2 separate regions of the Homo sapiens genome follow, and region 2 is linked to region 1. Evidence: fine-mapped expression QTL. Tissue or cell type: whole blood. Region 1 holds a variant in brackets; the other region holds the start of a gene. All regions are shown on one strand. Distances are between the middles of the regions.

The links. PIP is the estimated chance that this variant, and not a neighbour inherited with it, causes the effect.
Region 2: CERS6 starts here. The variant in region 1 is fine-mapped to the expression of CERS6 in whole blood (INTERVAL, PIP 0.91).

The regions. Positions count from the first base shown.
Region 1 is chr2:168,418,949-168,429,190 of GRCh38, forward strand. LOC105373734 (a long non-coding RNA gene) reads right to left here and starts at 2,807. Exons shown (of 6, transcript XR_923559.3): 1 at 2,445-2,807. It overlaps LOC102724081 (a long non-coding RNA gene), which reads right to left. Exons shown (of 4, transcript XR_002959433.2): 2 at 9,996-10,177; 3 at 8,526-9,596; 4 at 3,483-3,705. The variant T/C (reference allele first, on the strand shown) is at 4,297.
Region 2 is chr2:168,450,469-168,460,710 of GRCh38, forward strand. CERS6 (ceramide synthase 6) reads left to right here and starts at 5,804. Exons shown (of 10, transcript NM_203463.3): 1 at 5,804-6,150. The coding sequence starts at 5,981. It overlaps LOC102724081 (a long non-coding RNA gene), which reads right to left. Exons shown (of 4, transcript XR_002959433.2): 1 at 6,563-10,242. It also overlaps the pseudogene RN7SL813P. RefSeq lists silencers at 5,396-5,615, 5,646-5,735, 5,856-5,985, 6,436-6,495.

The DNA.
Region 1 (10,242 bases):
TAACTTTTTCCCTTTGAATCTCTCACAGGTAAGCAAAGTTTTAAAAAGGTACTTATAAATTGCTTTCATACAATGTACATATGCAGATCAAATGCCCAAAGTGTCTTTAGAATTTTCTTTTCTAAAAGGTCTCTGATTAGAATAATCAGATCACTTTTCTGAACAGGACTGGTTAGGTATGGAAAGAAAAACAGAAGAGAGGGTCTGAAAGCCAAGTTCATTGTGGGGAATTCTTTGAGTTCTTTTAGAAAGACTTGATTCTGGTTGTGGTGGGGGTGGAAGGGTGGGTAGGAGAGAGGATAGAGAAAAATTACCCCGAGAGACTCCTTCCTGCAACTCCTCAGACTCTTCCAGCTAACAGAGCATGGGCATGATGCATTAGTGAGCTGAGAGTAAATAGCAAATGAAGCAGAGGTGCCAGTTCCCTTGAGGCTTAGGTAAGACGTCAGTGGTAAGAAAATACTACATTCTTTTTGTGTAAGAGGCCAAAAAGGTGAAAATCTCTGGTAAGGCATAATAACAGTAGAAGAGGGAAAGACTAAAGTTCATCTCTCCTGAAATTTATCTTCTGTTATGCCAGTCCATGCTAACTTCAAATTCTGAGTAGCAATAGTGCTCATCATATATTGTCATATTATTATAGAGCCACTCAGAAAACAAGAGAAATTTGGGCCGCCTCTTTTTTTTTTTTCCTGAGGCTCTAGCATATTAAAAATGATGAAATAGCAAAATAGACCTACAATGATTATATATTGTTTACAATTAACAGTAGGCTTTTGATACAAATTATAATAAAGTAAGTATGCTAGTCATCAGCTACAAATCATGAAAGATATGAAATCATAGTAGACATATGAAAGACAAAAATGTAAATTTCTATGATGAATATGTTTGTCTTTTAATCCTGTCATTATCTTTGTGGTTGTATGTAATGCCGCAATAAAAGATCAGGCTAAAAATCTATGAGTTCTTTGTGAATAAGAAGTCAGGGCCAAACAGTCTTCCTTTGCCATCTCTCCTGCCCTCCTTGTTTTAAGTTCTGCTCATGGGGGTTTCCAACCAGACTATAGCCCAGTTTAAAGGAATGACTGTGTCTTATGAGTTGTGGGGCAAGAGGTTGAGGGGAACAAGAGTGTGACTTTGGTTGGATTTGTAGTGGAATGGCACATACCACAAGTCAACAGGATGGAAGAGGCAAGTTCAGAGAGGATGACGTAAAGCAGGGAAGGGTAGGAAGATGCCATGAGTTCGGGCAGGTGAGATGCTCAGAGCAGACCCTTGTCCCTGGTCTATCCACCCTGGACTGAGCCTGGCAGCCCACAGAACTGAGATAGGAATTGGCAGTCGTAGTCTCCAAGACAACAGGCCACATGACCCCACTGATAAGACAGGAGACAGTAAACAACAGGTCACAAGCCCCTGCTGCTAAGAGGATAACAATAAAGAAACCAGGCCGGGGGCAGTGGCTCATACCTGTAATCCCAGCACTTAGGGAGGCTGAGGCAGGCAGATCACGAGGTCAGGAGTTCAAGACCAGCCTGACCAACATGGTGAAACCTCATCTCTATTAAAAATACAAAAATTAGCTGGGCATGGTGGTGCACACCTGTAGTCCCAGCTATTTGGGAGGTTGAGGCGGAAGAATCGCTTGAACCTGGGAGGTAGAGGTTGCAGTGAGTCAAGATCTCACCACTGCACTCTAGCCTGGGCAACAGAGCAAGACTCTGTCTCAACAATAAATAAATAAATAAATAAATAAATAAATAAATAAATAAACCATCTAGAACCAAGGTGGAGTGAAAGTGACCTTCACTATTCATTATCCATGAATTATAATTCACTAGCATGCTAAAAAACGCTCCCATCAGTGCCATGACAGTGTACAGTTGCCATGGCAACACTCAGAAGTTACCCTGAATGGTCTAAACTGGGGAGAAAACCCCAGTTCTGGGAGTTCCCTGCCCCTTTTACAAAAAACTCATGCATAATCAATCCCTTATTCAGCATATAATCAAGAAATAATCACAAATATAACAAGTGAGCAGCCCACAATGCTATTCTGCCTATGGGGTAACCCTACTTTGCTTATGGAGCAGTCTTCCCTTTGTTCCTTTATTTCATTCAACTTCCTCTTGCTTTTTTTCTGTCAGATCGCTTTTGACTTCTTTCTTGTGTGAAGCCAAGCACACAAAGTCCCCCAGACTGAACCCTACTTTTGGATGTGCAGAAGGGATGGGTTGGCTGAACTTTTCAACTCCCTTCTCTATTCAATTCATGATCTCATCGCCATGTTTCATTCTCATATTTCACTTCTTTAAGGGCTTTTCTACTAAGTCTTAAAAATCATTATGTTAACATATACTTTGAGAAATTGTTGGAATAATCGCCATTTGGTGGGAATATGTTCAGAGAGAGTGGTGGCTTCCCCCATGACCCTTCCATACCTGGAAACACACACCCTGCCATCAAACTGAGCTTCTGACTTAATGTCTGGGGAAGGCAGCTGACAGGGATCTGGTACTTAAATTGATAGAGGAGGACCTAGAATGTGGAAGAGTGAAGGAATTAGGAGTTCTGGACAAGTAGAGACAAAATCCCAAGGCATAGAATTCTGTGAACAATGGAATGAGGGTCTAGGCATGGGCACCAGCAGGACAGGGTGCAGCTTGACACTTAGCAGGGTTTCCCTGCATCCCTACAGCTCAGTCCAGAGGTGGTCCAGATGTGATGCAGGTGGAGCAATCATATAATTCCCATAATGTACATGTCTTATGAACTCATCCAAATCAGAAAATACTCTGCCTGCCTGACTGTAGTTCTCTATAAATGAAAAAAAGTGTTATTAAAAGGATTATAAAACTCTAAAAAGTCAGAGCCTACAGTCTCTGTGCATAAGTAAAACCATTAGATAATCTGGGTGAGAGATCTTTATGGCCATTTGTCATTTGATGATATTTTCTTCACCTGTAAACCCACAACGATACACTGTTACTAAGAGAGGATGAAACAGAAAGGCCTGGAACATTCCATTCCCAAGAGATAATTTATCTAAGTTTTAACAAAGAGAAAGAAAATCAAAGCATAAAATGTTCTCCAGTTTTGGTCTTTTGCACAGTCAAGAGAGGCATTACATACTTACTACTTTGTTATTAAAAATAGAGACTACTCTCCTCCCAATGTCCCAAATGAGAAGAGGAAAGTTGGAACTGGATGCCATCAATAGGTTGAGAGACCAGTCACATCAAGGAAGAGAAGAGGGACCAATTTATGTTGGCAACATTTAACTTTGATGAGCCTCTTTTTGTCAGCCTCTTCTAACTTGGGGAGGCGGGAGAGGGGAGGAAAATGGCAGAGAGAGAAGCGAAGTGGGGGAAGGCCGTCTAGAAATCTAGAAGAGAAAAAGTTTACCTGTAAAAAGAAAGCCAATGTGGATTATAATTTAACATAATCTTAAAAAGAAAATAAAGAGACTTCAACAAAAGTCAAAGCAAACCATTTTAATCAATTTGAACCCCAGTAGGAAGAGGGTAGTTTCCCTTGGCCTTTGGCTAAAAAGTCTACTTAAAAAGCTGGTAGTCCATGGGCGCCTGTAATCCCAGCTACTCAGGAGGCTGAGGCAGGAGAATCATTTGAGCCTGGGAGACAGAGGTTGCAGTGAGCTGAGATTATGCCATTGCACTCCAGCCTGGGTGACAAGGTGAGATTCTGTTTCAAAAAAAAAAAAAAAAAAAAAAGCTGGTAGTCCAAAAGGAAGGCTATGTTAGCAGGGAACATTGCTGCACAATCAGAGGAGTTAGTTTTTAGTCAGAGTTTACCAGAAAATCCCCAGGAAGTCTGAAGTTTCTTCCTCTGTGTCATTTTGAGTTGCTGTCATCTGTCCCTAACCCCATTCAGATTAGTCAGTGTGAAAGTATTTGAAGGTATTTCTGCCATTAATTTTAATTCATTTCTAATTTTTTTAAAAAAATTCATAAACTAAAAATAATAGCAAGTCCAATGATATTAAAAGCTTAAATGTTTTTCTAAGATGATGATTCCTTATAAAAGGAAAAATTCCTTAAAGAGCTGTGTTTAAGAATTCATGAGATCAGCTGATCTTTTATCAAGTCACACATTTGTTTCTATCAAACCATTAAGACTATGTGTAATGTCAAAATCATTAAATTCCAAAAATTATTGTGGAAACTCTTCTCCACATTATTTTATTATTATTATTTCTACAAATTATTGTGTAAACTGTCCATCCAAGGTGACTACGGACAGAAAGGAAGTGGATGTGATAAAATATCAATGTAC[T/C]GATACATTGAATTTAAAGTCAGAGAGGGTTCTTGATGGAAAGGACTGCATAAATCAATGAGATCTGTGGTTCTCAACTCTGGTTGCATAATAGAATCACCTATATAATGGTATTTCAGTTTTATGTTTCAACTCAGCGTTTTAAGGATATATTCTTGATTATTTCTTCTATTTGAAATCTTCTTATCTACACCTCCCATTTTTACCACCACTGCCAAATTTAGCCATGAGAACACCTATACTTCTTACGAGTGATTTTTATTCTCTCTCTTGCTTGAGATCAATTTTTCTCCAATCTCTTTATATTTTCATTTGAACACCTACAGAATTTTTTAAGACTCTTCTCGACTGCATGAATTTGAATGCTAAAATATTTATGGTTTCTAATGCAGAATGTAATTAAAGACAGTCTACATTTGTCTTCTTTTTAAAGGTTAATACGTTTGTTATAAAATAATTTAAAATATTAAAACATGAAAAGTATAAAAACCATAATGATAATACACAGAATAGGAAATGTATTTATCACACATACAAGAAAATGTTGAAGAAAGTGCAAAATTATTTGTATATATTCTTGTGTATCAAGGTTTAAGGACTTTTAAATGTATCATATCTAATGAAATGAAATAAACATTTTCAGGACTTTTGGGAAGGACTGTAGATTATTACCACACTTTGAAATATAATTTGATAATATATATTATCAAAGCCTTAAATACTTTCATTTCTAAAACCTGGCATTAAGAAAAAAGTCAGCCATCTCTCTGTGTCTCTGTCTTTCCTTTATGAATTTCTGCTCCTTTGTCCTAATACCAATGACTTTGGGTATCTGTATTAGTCTGTTCTTATGCTGCTAATAAAGACATACCCAAGACTGGTTAATTTGTAAAGGAAAGAGATTTAATTGACTCACAGTTCAGCATTGCTGAGGAGGCCTCAGGAAACTTACAATCACGGAGGAAGAGGAAGAAAACACATCCTTCTTCACACAGCAGCAGCAAGGAGAAGTGCTGAGCAAAAGGGGGAAAGCCCCTTATAAGACCATCAGATCTCATGAGAACTCACTATCATAACAGTATGGGGAAAACCACCCCTATGATTCAATTATCTCCACCTGGACCTGCCTTTGACACGTGGGGATTATTACAATTCAAGGTGAGACTTTGGTGGGGACACAGAGCCAAACCTTATCAGTATCCTATTTAGGATTCCATTACATGTTTTATAATTTTTTTCCAGTTTCCATATTAAATCACTTTTGAAAGTACATACATCTTCTGACTCTTCATCAAGGACTAATCCCTACTTCCATAGGCTGCAAAGTGAGGATCATAACAATACCTTCTTCACAGTATTATGTAAATTAAATACATTTTCATGTGAAAGGCTGGGATTGACTAACTGTTGGAAGATTTCTGGAGTTCATTTTGTAATTGAAGCCAAGCTCTTGATTGCCTGTGAGGCTGATATGATGTGGGTGATCACATTACATTTCTGGTTTGTTTCTCAAATTTCATCACATTGCTGTGAAAAGTTACCATGGATATGTCAGGTTTTGAGCATGCTGTGCTGCTGGGAGCTTGGTGGAGACCTTCTGGAGTAGATAAAATGGAGGAAGGTCAAGGTGAAAAGCTATGGTCTTAAGGGGAGGCATTTCCCCATTTCTGCCCATTTTTGCTAGGAATGGATGCCAGCCTCACAAGGTAGCCAACTGAACTGGAGCAGTTAGTTACCCTTCCATTTGGGGGCTGGTGTTGTGAAGATCATCCCAAGCAAGAAGGAACTGCTGAACTGTGAACTTCTGTTTTCTACAAATCATCAAAATTTTTAAGTCTTATTTGCCTTACCCCACGCTTTGCTAGTGTTCTGGGTTGAGGCGGATTTGTTTCATCACAAAGAACCTATAGAGACATAATGTTTCTTTTTATCTTTCCCAGGTTAGCACGTTTTAACTTAGTTCAGTTGACATAGGGTTATTTTTAAGAAGAAACTTCAATTGGCAACTAGGAGGGGAAAAAAAAAAACCAGAACAGACTGGTTTACAGTTTCTTTTAAGATATGTTCCCTCCCTTCCTAACTTTCTTCCTTCCTCTTTTTCTTCCTTTAATTTTTTTTCTGATTCTTTTTTCATTTAATAAATTTCTTGAGCACTGTGCTGGTCAGTGGGGAGTCAAGGATAAATAAGAGGCATGATTTTCTTCCTCTAATTTAGCTACAATTTACTTTCTCTCTGAGATCAATACTTTTTCTTTTTTGTTTTATATTATACAATGAGAGACGGCCCCTCTTACTTTATATTCCTTGAACAATAAGGACCCCTAAACATTACACATCTAAAATGATATATTAACACCGGATTTTTTTTCAGTAAGGAAAAAAACAATTTCCCTAGTAACCAGCTTGCTATAGTCTCTTAGGAAGTTCAGCTATGATTGCTGAATGCTCAAATCTGTCTTATTCTTCTTAAAGTATCCAGGCCATTTTTTTCAGTATGAGAAATTTAATGATGCTTTAAAAATAATTTTTAAAAACAGCTAACCAGCAGGGCATGGTGGTGCGTGCCTGTAGTCCCAACAACACAGGAGGCTGAGGCGGGAGAATCTCTTGAGCCCGGGAGCTGGAGGTCAGCCTGAGCAACATAGCAAGCCTCAAACTCCTAGAAGCCTCAAACTCCTGGGCTCAAGCGATCCTCCCACCTCAGCCTCCTGAGTAGCTGTTACTACAGTTGTGTGCGACCACACCACACTAATTTTTAAATTTTGTGTAGAGACCAAATCTCACTGTGTAATGGTTTTTCTTTTTAAAGTCTTGGTGCCACCAGGCCTGGAGCACTCCACGCTCCAGGAATCCTAGATTGGTAAGGAATTAATCCATTGGTTACACTTGCCTCAACCTATTGTTCTCTCAAGTCTCCAGCCTCACAAACTGTATCAGTAGTTGATTGGGTCTCTGCCTCCTCTTTGGGCGTCAGGTTTCAGGTGTATGGCTTGAAATGAGCTTACTTCTTAATAAATCACCCTTCTTCTCATTGACACCTCACCCTAGCTCCAAAACCTGCTCTCCCCTGTGATCTGCCCCACTACTGATAAGCTCTCTGCTGGCACTAACTTTAGGTCATTCTCCAGGCCATATGGACATGGCATTCCAGGAAAAGGGGAGATGTGAGCTGGGGGCACGTGAGTGTAGACTAGCACAGTGTGTCCAGGTAATGGCATGGGTTAGTGTGATTGGAGCTAAGGTCTGTGCAGGGGGCATAGGAGGACACTAGGCTAAGAAGGAAAGTTTGGCCCAGATTGAATGGGCCTTCTCATTACATTAGACTTGATCCAGTACTCAGTGCAGAGCCACTAACAGGTTTAGGGGAGGTGAGTGAGTTAACCCTATTCCTGTTTTAGGAAGAGGACTTCAGTGTAGGCATGAAGGGGTACTGGAGGATGAGACTGCAGGAGACAGGGCAGCTCTTTACAGGAGGTTTGCCTTAATCCAACAGAAAATAGTAAAGGGTGGACTCAGACCTGGCAGTGGAATGAAGAGATAAGGAAGATGGGAGAGATTGTTTCAGAAATAAAACTGATACAACGTTTTGATTAATTGGATGTAAGTTAGAAGGAGCAGGGAAAGTCAAAGTAGAGGTCTTCTTAAACATATATGGAGAAGTTTGTGCCAGTAACTGAGTGAGAAATAGAAAAGGTAAAGCAGGTTGGGGAGAAGAAGATCAGTTCTGTTCTAAACATGCTGTTTGAGGCCTGAAAGGAGAAGCTAAATGCGTATCAGATAGACAGGAGAAGCTCTGGGAGTTAGTCATAGAATTTACAAGAAACATCAAGAGTTGTTGCAGATTGGTCCAAGTCAAACCAAAGAGGAAACTGAACTTAGAGAGTGAGAGAAAGGTAGCAGGACTTAAGGATGTGATAAATAACTGGCTTTCAACACTCACCGAACATCTAAGTCACTTGGGAGGCTTTAGAATATTAGTAATTTCATTGAGATACAATTTATATAGCACAGAATTCACCTGTTTAAACTTTAGAATTCACGGTTTTTAGTATATTCAAAATTGTGCAACCATCACCACCACTTAATTTTAGAAGATTTTTGTCACCCCAAAAAGAAACCCTATGTCCATCAGCCATCACTCCCTATTCCCCGCAATGAACTTAAAAAAGAAGAAGGTTGCTACTGGAAGGGTATGGTAAAGCTCACAGTCTCACAAAGAGCTGAATTACCAGGCCTTAGGAAGAGCAGAAAATACTCCAGCTCTGGGAGTCCCAGCAGAAGAAACTGAGAGGCTTTTTCTTCCCAGTGATGCTGATTGATGACTCAGCATTCACGTCTTCTCTCCTATGTGTCTCTGCTCAGTGGTCAAATTCCAGAGAAGGAAACTCAAAACGACCTCTGGTCAGGGAAGCTAGTCAGAGAAATCAAACAACAACAATGAAAAACCAGATGTCTAACCACATTGTTGGTCTGGAGAAAGCTGCATCTGCGAAGACTCTATATTGTCTCCAGTTGAGAGTGAATGTAAAGTGAGGAAACAGTACATGAAGGCTTACTCTTCAACAAGTCTATACCAAGGGAAAAAAAAGTAAAGCAATTGTGCACAGTGACGTCCTGGGCTGAAATATTTCTCCCACCCCAGCCTTCTGAGTAGTTGGGACTACAGGTGCACACCACCACACCTGGCTAATTTTTTTAAAAAATATTTTTTGTAGAGATAGGGTCTCCCTATGTTTCCCAGGCTGGTCTTGAACCCCTGGATTCAAGTGATTCTCCTGCCTTGACCTCTCAAAGTGCTGGGATTACAGGTGTGAGCCATTGTGCCTGATATTTGTTTGTTTTTAAGATATGATGTCCTTGAATATGTTCATAGGCAGGGAGACCTGGGGGAGAGGGGAGGGAATTAATGGAGCAAGTTACAGAAGAAGGCAGGTAGGGCTGATATTAGTGGCAGAGGAGGAGGGGTTAGCTTTGGAATGTAGGAGGCACACTTTTCCAAATAGATGGAGATTTGCAGGGTAAGGGGAAAGGAGGGATCTGCAAACTGATGGCCTGTATTTCTCAGGGAAATAAAAGACAAAGTGATGTGTAGATTGAGGGTCCAGGGAGTGAGGACTTGAGGTGAGTGGTGAGTCTGTGACTCCTGCTGCAGGGTCAGGTTCACTAACGGCAGCAGAGCAGTGGAGTGGTCCAGTCAAGCTTGACGCCAATGGATTGCTTTTTGTTCCTTTTTCCTTCCATTGCTGATTTTTTTTTTCTTTACATTTTAATGTTTATTTATCTCTCTCTCAAAGAGTGAACTAGAGAAAAAAAAAAGGGAAAGCAAATGTTAGAGGTTAAACTGAATGGACCACATCATAAAGTTTCTGCTCAAGCTTTGGTGGGGTGAGGATGAAGCGGACACAAAAATAGCTTGTTATTATTGGACTCCACTTACCCTTGTTTCTCCATCATAACCTCTAGTCCACGGATGTTGGTTTGTCTTACTACTCTAGAGGACTTGGAGCCCTTGGTTCAGAAGATGAGGCAAGAGTGCAGTAGATTCCTTCAGGTGTAACTTTACTGCACAAGGGTGCACCAAATAGGCAGCACCTGAGTACCTGGTACCACCAAGGTTGTTCCAAGGAAGGTAGTTTATATCACTTCAAGGCAGGGTTGTTGGGACAACCAAGCAAAAATGGCTTAAAGACTATACTTACCTTCCATAACTGCAAGGGGCATCCGTGGCGAACCAAAAGATCTCTCAGTTGAAGACCAGGTGACCCCAGATGAGATGTCAATCAAGATCTACCCCCTCTGAGTTCTTTAAAAATGGAACCTCCATTCTTGACTTCATAATGGCTTTATTGCAAACTTCACAGACCTTCCTGCTAGCACAGCGCTAAAAAAGAGCATCATTTCAGACTGCATTCTGATTGGGAGAAACAATCAGGAATTAGATTAGGC
Region 2 (10,242 bases), 32 kb after region 1:
CTTTTATGTTCTTTTTGTAGAACAAGTACTATATAGATTTGTGTTATGCAACCCATAGTGGAAATTCATCCAAACTGCTGGCTGATCTCCTGCATCTAAAAAGTGGAGACTGCAGCTGGGCGCGGTGGTTCACGCCTGTAATCCTAGCACTTTGGGAGGCCGAGGCGGGCAGATCACGAGGTCAGGAGTTTGAGACCAGCCTGACTAACATGGTGAAACCCTGTCTCTACTAAAAATACAAAAATTAGCCAGGTGTGGTGGCACGTGCCTGTAATCCCAGCTATTCAGGAGGCTGAGGCAGGAGAACCACCTGGGAGGTGGAGGTTGCAGTAAGCCGAGATTGCGCCACTGCACTCCAGCCTGGGCAGAGCGAGATTCTGTCTCAAAACAAAACAAAACAAAACAAACAAAAAAAAGTGGAGACTGCTTACAATGTGAACTCAAATTAAGACCTGGGTGTGGACCTGAGAATGAGAGATAAAGCTCAGCTTTGTTGATATTTTCCAGTTGCTTGGAAATCAGGGTGTATTCTCAGGTGATGTTTTCTATTCAGAAAACAAAGCATGCTTTCCTAATATGCAGTGTAACTGGTGTCACTTCCCCTGAACACATTTTTTTTTCTCCCCTTTTCTCTTGCCTTGTCCCTTTACCGACCAGCTACTTACTTTCTCACTGGGCTACATATTAGTCTGATGCATAAATTGTATTTTGGTTTCCTGGGGCACCAATTAGAAGTCTTTCCTGTACATTTACAAAGTAGCTTTCTTGAGAGGTATGCTGTGCTATCCCCCTCCTGTGACTAACTTCCCTGGGGCCTCAGCTGAGCTCAGGATAGCGTTAAAGACATGTACTCTTGCTGTGCACAGTGGTATGCACCTGTGGTCCAGCTATTTGGGAAGGAGGCTGAGGCAGGAGGACTGCCTGAGCCCAGGAGTTCTGGGCTATAGTGCACTATGCCAAATGGGTGTCTGCACTAAGTTCAGAATCAATATGGTGACCTCCCAGGAGCAGGGGATTACCAGGTTGCCTAAGGAGGGGTGAACTGACCCAGACTGGAAACTGATCAGGTCAAAGCTCCCATGCTCATCAGTAGTGGGACTGCACTCCAGCCTAGGCAACATAGTGAGACCCCATCTCTTAAAAAAAAAGACATGTGCTCTTAGAGTAATGTCTTGGATAGTGGGATTTTTTTGCAAACTGAAATAGCAGCAACTCAACCCAAAAGCAGAATTTATCAAGCTATGAGGCTGTTTCACAGAACCTAAGGATGAGAAGGTAGTTGGCCCCTAGGTATTAAATGGAACCTGGAGCTCCAATGCCAACAGGACTCCCTGTGTGTCTCTTACCTTTAACTCTGCAGGTCTTAACTCTACAGGTCTGCTTTATTTTTTTTCTCTTGTTGTAGACTAGCTTCTGCTTTTTCTAGCTGTGTAATGAAGCAAGGGGGCCAACAGCTTCTGAGTTGGAATCCTTGAATCTAAGCATCCAGAGAAAGACAGTCTTGACCCGACTCACAACACCGGAGTAAGGCTTTTATTGCCATGTTAGGCCAATTGTCCATCCCTGGATCAATAAAATGTGATCATATTTGGAATGATAGTTTACTCTAATATGTTTCTGGGGTAAACGTTTAGATGCAAAGTGGTAGGAAGGGGCATTGGCTGGAGGAGTTCTACTAGACAGATGAGGAGTAGGTGTTTGCTGAACTGTACATGGGTATAGAGAAGAATAGTTTACAAGCCCTTTCTCATATGTTATCTTATGTGAGCCTCATGACAGTCAGTGACAGAGGCAAGACAGGTACTGTTGATGCACAAATCACACAGGAGGGTATTAACACGCTCTTAGAAACAAAGGAACTTATGGAAGATTCATAGAAAGTACTAAATCCTCCTTTTACTGTCCAACAAAACTCACCCTTCAAAATGTTCCTGAAATCCCACCACCTTCTCAAAGTTGATGAATGGGAGAGCCACATTATCTTAGTTTAGCTCCTATTAGTTTAGCTTCTAAGTTCCAGGGAAGTGTAGTTTCAGGGAAGCAGGAATGAGAGAAAAGGAGAGTGAGATGAGAAAGAGGAGAGGAAATATAAGGGGGTGAATTACTGAGTGGGTCACAATCTTGAAATAAAATGATGAGTTTATATCAGGGGGTGAGTTACTGAGTGGGTCACAATCTTGAAATAAAATGATGGGTTTGTAGCAGGGGGTATTTTCAGAGAGGCTGTTTGAAGCCATTGTGTGTGTCCGAGGGGTGGGGAGGAAAGGAATAAAAATGTACTTACTGTCTTCATTGCCCATGATCAAAGTCAGATCCCAGGGCATTAACTCACCAACAGTATTATACATGCTTGGGGACATAGAAGGAGCTGCTGGAGAGCACAGAAGCCATGGAGTAGGAAGCAAGGTACTATCAGGTCATACAGGAAGGAGTGACATGAGAAACCAGGGGTAGTCACAGAAGAAGTCTGGCTGGCCCAGAAGGCCAGGCTCTGACATGTCATGACATGTCATGACATGACTTTCGGACACAAAGTTGGTGAGAGGTCTTAACAAACCTCTGTCTATGGCCTACGAGAATGCAGCTGGTGCCAAGGCATGTTCCAGTGTTACTGAGAAGCTCACCACATGGTCTAGAGTGGTGATGGCGACTTCTACTCCCAAATGAAGACTCACTTCAATGACACCTCACCTCCCTCACCCCAGAATTGACCAATTCCTTCTTTATGCCCACACTATTCTACACACGAGTCTAACATGGATATATAAATATTTAACACAATTATTCAGATTTTTTTTCTTCTCCTTGAGAAGACTTTTTGGGGTTGGAGTAATGTTGATTCATTTATTCAGTAGTTTATTGAGTATCTACAATGTGCCGGGCAGTTTTTTTTTTTAAGTGCTAGGAATAGAACAGTTGATAAAATAAATACAAATCTTTTAACTTTCTGAAGCTTACATTTTAGTGCATGTCTGTGTGGATGATTGATGAAGATATAGGTACAATATATCTTGTGTTGACGGTGGTAAGTGTCTTGGAGAAAAACAAAGCAAGATAGGAAGAGTGGTGGTGGGGATTGAGGGATGTAGATTAACTAGGGTGGCCAGGGAAGGCTTCAGGGAGAAAATGACATCAGTACAGAGCAAACATGGATGTTCGTGTAAAAAGAGTTCCAGGGACAGAGAAGAGCAAGCACAAAGGCTCTAAGACATAGCTGGTGTGTCCCAGTAAGGGCAGGGTGGCCAGTGTGGACTCAGGCAGAGTGAAGGAGAGAGAAGAGTAAATAAGTCAGAGTTAATACGGAACCAAATATCACAGGTCATTGGAATAATTTGGCTTTCACTTGGGAGGGATGAGGAAGAAGCAGGGTTTTCACCCCAGGGGTGATCTGACAAATTTGCATAGGATCACACTGGCTGAGAATAGACTGTAGAGGGGCAAAGGGTGAAACTGGGAGTTGGGAGGTTACTGGAGTAATGTGAATTAGAAGTATTGGTTGTTTGGACCAAGATGGTAGCAGGGGAGGTGGTGAGAGATGGTGAGATTATGGTTTTAAAATGGTGCTGATGGGATTTGGGATGGATTGGAAAGGAGGTATGAGAGAAAGAGAGAAGGGGAAAAAATGACTCCACATTTTTGGCTTGAGCCAAGACTACAGGAGGAAGAGATTTCAAGGGGAAGATTAATAGTTTGGTCATGAGATAGCTTTTAGACATCTGAGTGGTGGTGTTAAATTGCCAGTGGATTTAAGAGTCAGAAGGTCAGGAAAAAGTTCATGGCTAGAGATATAAATATGGGAGCTATTAGCATGACATTGGAGGGCATACAGATGTCATTAAAAGCCACGAGACTGGATAAAATCACCAAATGAATACATTCAGATAGAAAAGTGAAGAGGAAAAAAGACTGACTCCTAGGCCACTATAACTTCTAGGGGTTAGAAAAGTGAGGAGTAACCAGGAAGGAGACTGAGAAGAAATGGCCATGAAGGAGGAAGAAACCCAGAAGAGTGAGGTTTCTGGAAGCCAAGTCAAGAATGTTTTAAGACACACGACCTGACAACTGGGCCAAATGCTACTGACAGAGGTGTTGTGAACTGCTATGAACTGAATGTGTGTGTCCCCCAAAATTCATATGCTGAAATCCTAGTTCCCAATGTGATAGTATTCAGAGACAGAGTCTTTGGGAGGTAATTAGCTAATGAGGGTAGAACCTTCATGAATGGGATTAGTGCCCTTATAAGAAGATAGGGCACTAATCTGTGTTTCCTCTTTCTGTGCTCTCTGCCATGTGAGGATACACAAGAAAACAGCTGTTTTCAAACCAGGAAGAGGATCCTTGCCAGACACTGGATCTGCCTGCATGTTGATCTTGGACTTCCCTGCCTCCAGAACCGTGAGGAATAAATTCTGCTGTTTAAGCCACCTAGTCTAAGCAGCCTGGACTAAGATAAGAACTGACCTTTGTGTTTAGCAGCATGAAGATCACAGGTGACCTTGGGCAGTTTCAATGCAGCAGAGGAGACAAATGTCCAAATGGAAGTTCAAAAGAAAATGAGGGGAGAGAAATTGGAAGCACCAGTATAGGCCATTCTTCAGTTTCACTTTCAAGAGATAGAGTGGAAAGAGGGGAGGGAAGAGTAAAAGAAACTCCCTCTCTCTGTGTGTGTGTGTGTGTGTGTGTGTGCGGTTATATGCCCACTGGAAAGGTTTAGTATAGCCTACTGGCAGCACCAGGCAGAAAATGAATGTGAGAAAAATGAACAAAAATGCCCCAGAACCATGTATACATGGGCCATGGAATGAATTCACACATGGCTCCTGTATCAATGGGGAAATGCATTGCGGGAGGGAAGGTGCCTGGGTTAGGCCTCACAGGCCTAATGCCTTAAAGGTTTTAGATTCAAAAGGCAGAAATAATGAGCCTGCCGAGTAGCACAGTGGAGGTTCTCATGATGTGCCAGGTCAAAATGTGGTCTAGCAGCCTTTTCAGAGAGGTTAGTTGAGAGGGGTGGTTTTACAGAACGCTGCAGTTGCTATCATCATCATCATCATCATCATCATCGTCATCAAGTAGCAATTAATAATCAAATAGCAATTAAGTGCCTAATTTTTTGTACCACCTCATAAATCAATATAGGGGGGCTTGTTCCCTGGGGGAGCTACTTTGATGAGAAGCAGCAGTATAAAAGACCGGAAAGTCAAAGATTGGGGAAAGGCAGGCGTGGGGCAGAGGCAGAAGGCTCTTGCCAAACCATCCTGCCTCAGTTCCTGATTTTTCACCCTGCCTCTCCAAGCGCGGGAGTGGAGGATCCTTTCCCTCCCACTTCCTCCTTTGCTCTTTACCCCTCCCCCTCCCCCCCCCTTTTTTTTTTTTTGCTGTCCTCCTGGAGCAGGGCTGGTTCTGAAGCTTGGCGGCAGCCCCTACCTGCTGACCCACCGCCTCCGGGCGCACGGGAAGAGGACTGAGAGCCCTGAAACCCCAGCGGGGCAGGAGCCAGCATTCTGAGCATGTGCGAGCCAGCCAGGGGGCTAGGGCGGATTTGGGGGGTCGACTTTAGGTCGTCGCCCTAAGCGCAAAGCGAAAGAGCGGTGAGAGCAGGGGCGGGCGACACTCCCCGGAGCGGTGCCCCTGCGCCCAGGGCGCAGCGACTGCGCCCTGCCCTGCGGGTGTGGGCGAGTTGGCCGCGTGTGTGCCTCGCTGTTTGACGCGAAGACGAGCCAATCAGGGCGGGCGGCCCGAGCTGCCATGTGACGGGCAAGGCGGCCCCTTTCCCCAGCGCGGCCAGAGGGAGGAGAGAACCGGGGCTCGCCGCGAGCCTTCGAGAGCAGCGGCCGCGGAGGAGGCGGCGGCGGCGGGCGGGAGCAGCGGCGGCGGCGGCACAGGCTCGGGGCCAGCCGGGCGCGCATCCCCGGGCGCCCTGCGCGGTGGAGAGCTTGGCGGGCTGCGGGTGCCGCAGGACAGGAGTGGACAAAGCAAGATGGCAGGGATCTTAGCCTGGTTCTGGAACGAGAGGTTTTGGCTCCCGCACAATGTCACCTGGGCGGACCTGAAGAACACGGAGGAGGCCACCTTCCCGCAGGCTGAGGACCTCTATCTCGCTTTTCCCCTGGCCTTCTGTATCTTCATGGTGCGGCTCATCTTCGAGAGGTAAGAAGGGCTGAAGCCCCTCCTCCCCTCCCCCTGCGCACACACACGCGCGCACACACTCGCGCGCTCTCTGGCGCACGCCCCCGCGCCCCCAACGCTCGCGTTCACGCCTCCCAACCTTTGTGTTCGGGGAGGGGTTGCTGACCCCCCTGCCCCGCTGGCTTTCTGGGAGCCAGAAAGGGTCTGGCTTGCCACGGATTTCCTCCCGGGCGCCGGGGAGGAGCCGCGGAGCGTTAGGGTCGCCCCCTGCCCTCCTCCTGGGCCCTGCTCTCCTCCCGGCAAGGGCAGGCGAACAAAGGTGAGCGGTGGTCGGGCTCAGGACCCGCCGCATTCCGCGGGGCTCGCCCCTCTCCGCCGGCGCGCCACGCAAGGCTGCCAGGCAGGGCTTCCCGCCGGGGCCCGCGCCACCCACCTGACAGCCAGGAACGTTCCGGACGCGCGGCCCGGAGGGAGGAGGAACCGCGCACACTTCAATCTTTATGCTCCGGCACACGGATTGTAGGGGTTGTGCTTCAAAAGAATTCGCCAGGGACTTCCTGGCTTCTGGTCGCTGTTTGGTTTTTATCCGTGAAACTATCAGGCCCACAGTCCTGGCAAATAGGGGATAATAGCATTTCAGGTTATTAGCGGTTTCTTTAAAAGAGGATGTGACAGGACGGGTCCACATCCTGCAAAATGGTGATATTAAACTGATAACCCTGTCCTGTGAATAATCATAAACTTCTTTTTTGGTACTCGAAGGCACTTAAAATTTTGAGGAATTGTCATGCAATTGTATAGTTCCTCGGTTTGGTTGGATATCTCCATTGTGTCACATACAAACTTGTGTTATTCTCATGGAATTCGTTTTCGTCGCGAAACTAGATTGTGCCTGCCATGCATTCTCTGGGTGCTACTGAAAGAAAACCAGGACAGCAGCACACTTTTTTTTTCGTAACAGAAAATATTATCTTCCCCTTTCTTGTACCCTCCCCTTCCTCTGCCCAATTCATCAGTAAAGGCTGAATTTCTTAGATCACAAAGTAGAGTTTAGATTGCATTTCTCGCTTCCACTCCGCCTTTCTTCCCCGCCTTCAACTCACCTTGGTTTTGTTTCTTAAGCTTTTGCTGGTACCTCATTTGCTGTTCCTCTTTGCCTGAAAACGACTGTTGAGGGTGGCAGAACGCGTCTTTTGAGTCATTTGCTGCTGGACGAGGCAACAAAGCTTCATGGGGACAAAAAGTATCTTTTGTCTCAGGAAGGTATATTTTTCACCGGACAGTATTGTTGCTTGAAAACGAAGTCAGCTGTTCGCCTGCAGAAATTGACATGCACAAAGCAACAGACTTTAAGACCTATGTTTAAATTATTGGAATCTAATACAGATGTGTCATTGATCCTATACAAAAAAGGATCAAAAAAGTCACAGCAGTGCTGTGAAAAAATGGGTGTGTTTGCAGGTGTAGAGTTACCTCTAGAGCAAATGTTTGGTTACAGAAAATATGAACTCTATACAGTTTTGCAGGCTCTCCAAAAACAAGCAGACTCAGGGATAGCAGGTTTGCTCTATGTTGGCACATAGTAGGGGATCTACACACAATTGCTGAATTATGATAAATTGTGTCTGATAAATTCTGGCTGGGCTCACTTTTAGATAGATAATGCATTTGAAAGAGATGTGCAGTCTTATGTGTTGGAGAACAAAAGCATGATCTGTGCACAAACAGCCGAATTTTCCTGACATCCTCCTTCTCTATGCTGATTCCAGGCTGTTCACTGTGTTTAAAAAAATTAAGTTGTTAGAATGGAGATGGCTTTGTACTTAGATTGTCTCTGCCTCTAAAAAGATAAACACTAATGTGATAGTTGAAAACTGGAAGTTCATTTTTCCTCTTTCTAAACATTTTTTATTTTCTTTCTTTTTTTCCATAATCCCATGACTCGACTTAGAGTTTACATAGAGGGGTGAGCTGCTTTCAATTGTCAGTCACAGCAAATGTCCTCATATTGATATAAAGTGAGTTGGTCAGTTTCCTTCAGGCCATTGATCTAAGTAGAAGAGATTTAATGGCCTGTATGGAAAGTGAAAGTTTATGGTTAATGTTCAGAATAATAATCCAATATGGCACATATGTCACAGAATGCTACTGACTTTTGGAAGACTATCTACTTTGTTTCTTCCTATGATAGCTCTGTCTTTAACCATTCAGACCTTCTCAATTCTCTGAAAATCCACAATTTAGTTGTATCTAGAGTTAGAAGTTCTGCATGTTTCTCCTCTTCTCAAACCTAAATGACATATTCTGGGATCCAACCTGTGACCTTCATCTCAGTAGCATCCATCAAGGGCCTGAATCAATAAAACAGAACCATTCAGTATTATCACTGCTACAACTCACATTCAATGGCCTTCTAGCATTTTGTATATACATCCTTTTCTTTTGCAGTATTCTATAATGTATACGATGATTTTAAAAGCCTGTTGTGAATCCCTTTGTAGAATGAAATGCTTTTGTAATAGGAATAATTCTCTCAAGATTCTTCTCTTTGTATGCTTTGTCATTTATTTCAAAGCTGAGACCATACCTAAGAAATACCCGATTATCCAAGTCTTTATTTTACATTAAGTGAAGTCAGTAATGTCCTTGTTGAGGCTAAAATCGTGAATTTGAATGCCTTCTTCTCAGTCTTAGGTATTTCTCTCTACTAAGAGAAACATCAAAGAATTGACTGAAATGGGCTTTGCCCAGTTAAACAGTCCTTTCTTTTTATTTTCATCCCGGCTGTTGTGGTGTGGATAGTGGAGGCATTGGTAGCCAGAACATGTCACTTTATGACAGCATATGGACAGCAATATGGAAGCCCAGCATGGTTGGTAAAAAATGGGGCAGCCTAAGGTCAATGACTTTTGGCTGAGTCTGTGAAGATCTCAAAGCTTGGTGGTTTTTAGCATAGCCTTTATACCATACTTAACTCCGGGTAAGGACCAGGACCACTGTAGCGACCAATTGATTGACAGAGTAAAGTATGTGGGTTTTTTTTTTTCCCCCAACTGGGCTGATTCTCTTAGAATAAAAATTGTATACCATTATATTATGTTAACTTGATCACAAAGAACAAAATGTTATTTATTAATAATATAGCATTGTCATCTGTTTGATGAATTTTCTTGATTTAATGCTTGTTTAGATTCAGTAAGCCATTCTCAGGAACTATAATAAATGCTTCTTCCAACTTCACTTTTTCAAAAATGTGTTTTGCTGTGGTATTTATAAATGTGGAAATTGTGCTGAATCTCTTTAGAAATAAAAATTCTTTGAGTTATTGTTACAAATGTTAACTTTAATGCTGTGGATTTAGGAGAGATGCAGGAAGTATAGATCGGGAATCAGAACACTCAAATTCTAGTCAAAACTTACACTGGGGCAGCCTCCTAATTTATCTCTGTTTATTTTCTCATTTATGTGTTGAGGCAAATGGCCTTTGTAACTTATTGTTTTCACCCTCCTGATTCTTTGATTCCTGTGGATCATCTGTGCTTGAAAATTACTAATTATTATCTGATGAAACTTTGAAGCGGCTGAATGTCTTTTTTTTTTCTTTTCTTTTTTTTTGAGACATGTTCTCCCTCCATCACCCATGCTGGAGTGCAGTGGCATGATCATGGCTCACTGCAACCTCCACCTCCTGGGCTCAAGCAGTCCTCTCACCTCAGCCTCACGAGTAGCTAGGACCACAGGTGCATGCTACCAGGCCTAGCTAATTTTTTGTAATTTTTTGTAGAGATGGGGTCTCCCTGTGTTTCCCAGGCTTGTCTCAAACTCCTGAGCTCAAGTGACCCGCCCACCTTGGCCTCCCAAAGTGCTGGGATTATAGGTGTGAGCCCCTGCACCTGGTCAAGAGATTTTTTTTTTCCACAGAAATATTGTAGTCAATGGTTTTGTTTCTTGTATTTTTCAGCTGTGTTTTGAGTCAAAAGAATCATTTGGGCTGTTATCATTTATGCTCCAAAAAGCTACAGTATTTCAGAATAACCAACAAAGATTCTATAGAGAAAGCAATTGTTCCGTTTCCTTAGACCTCTTTTAGGTAGAACCCAGAGTAGGCCTGGC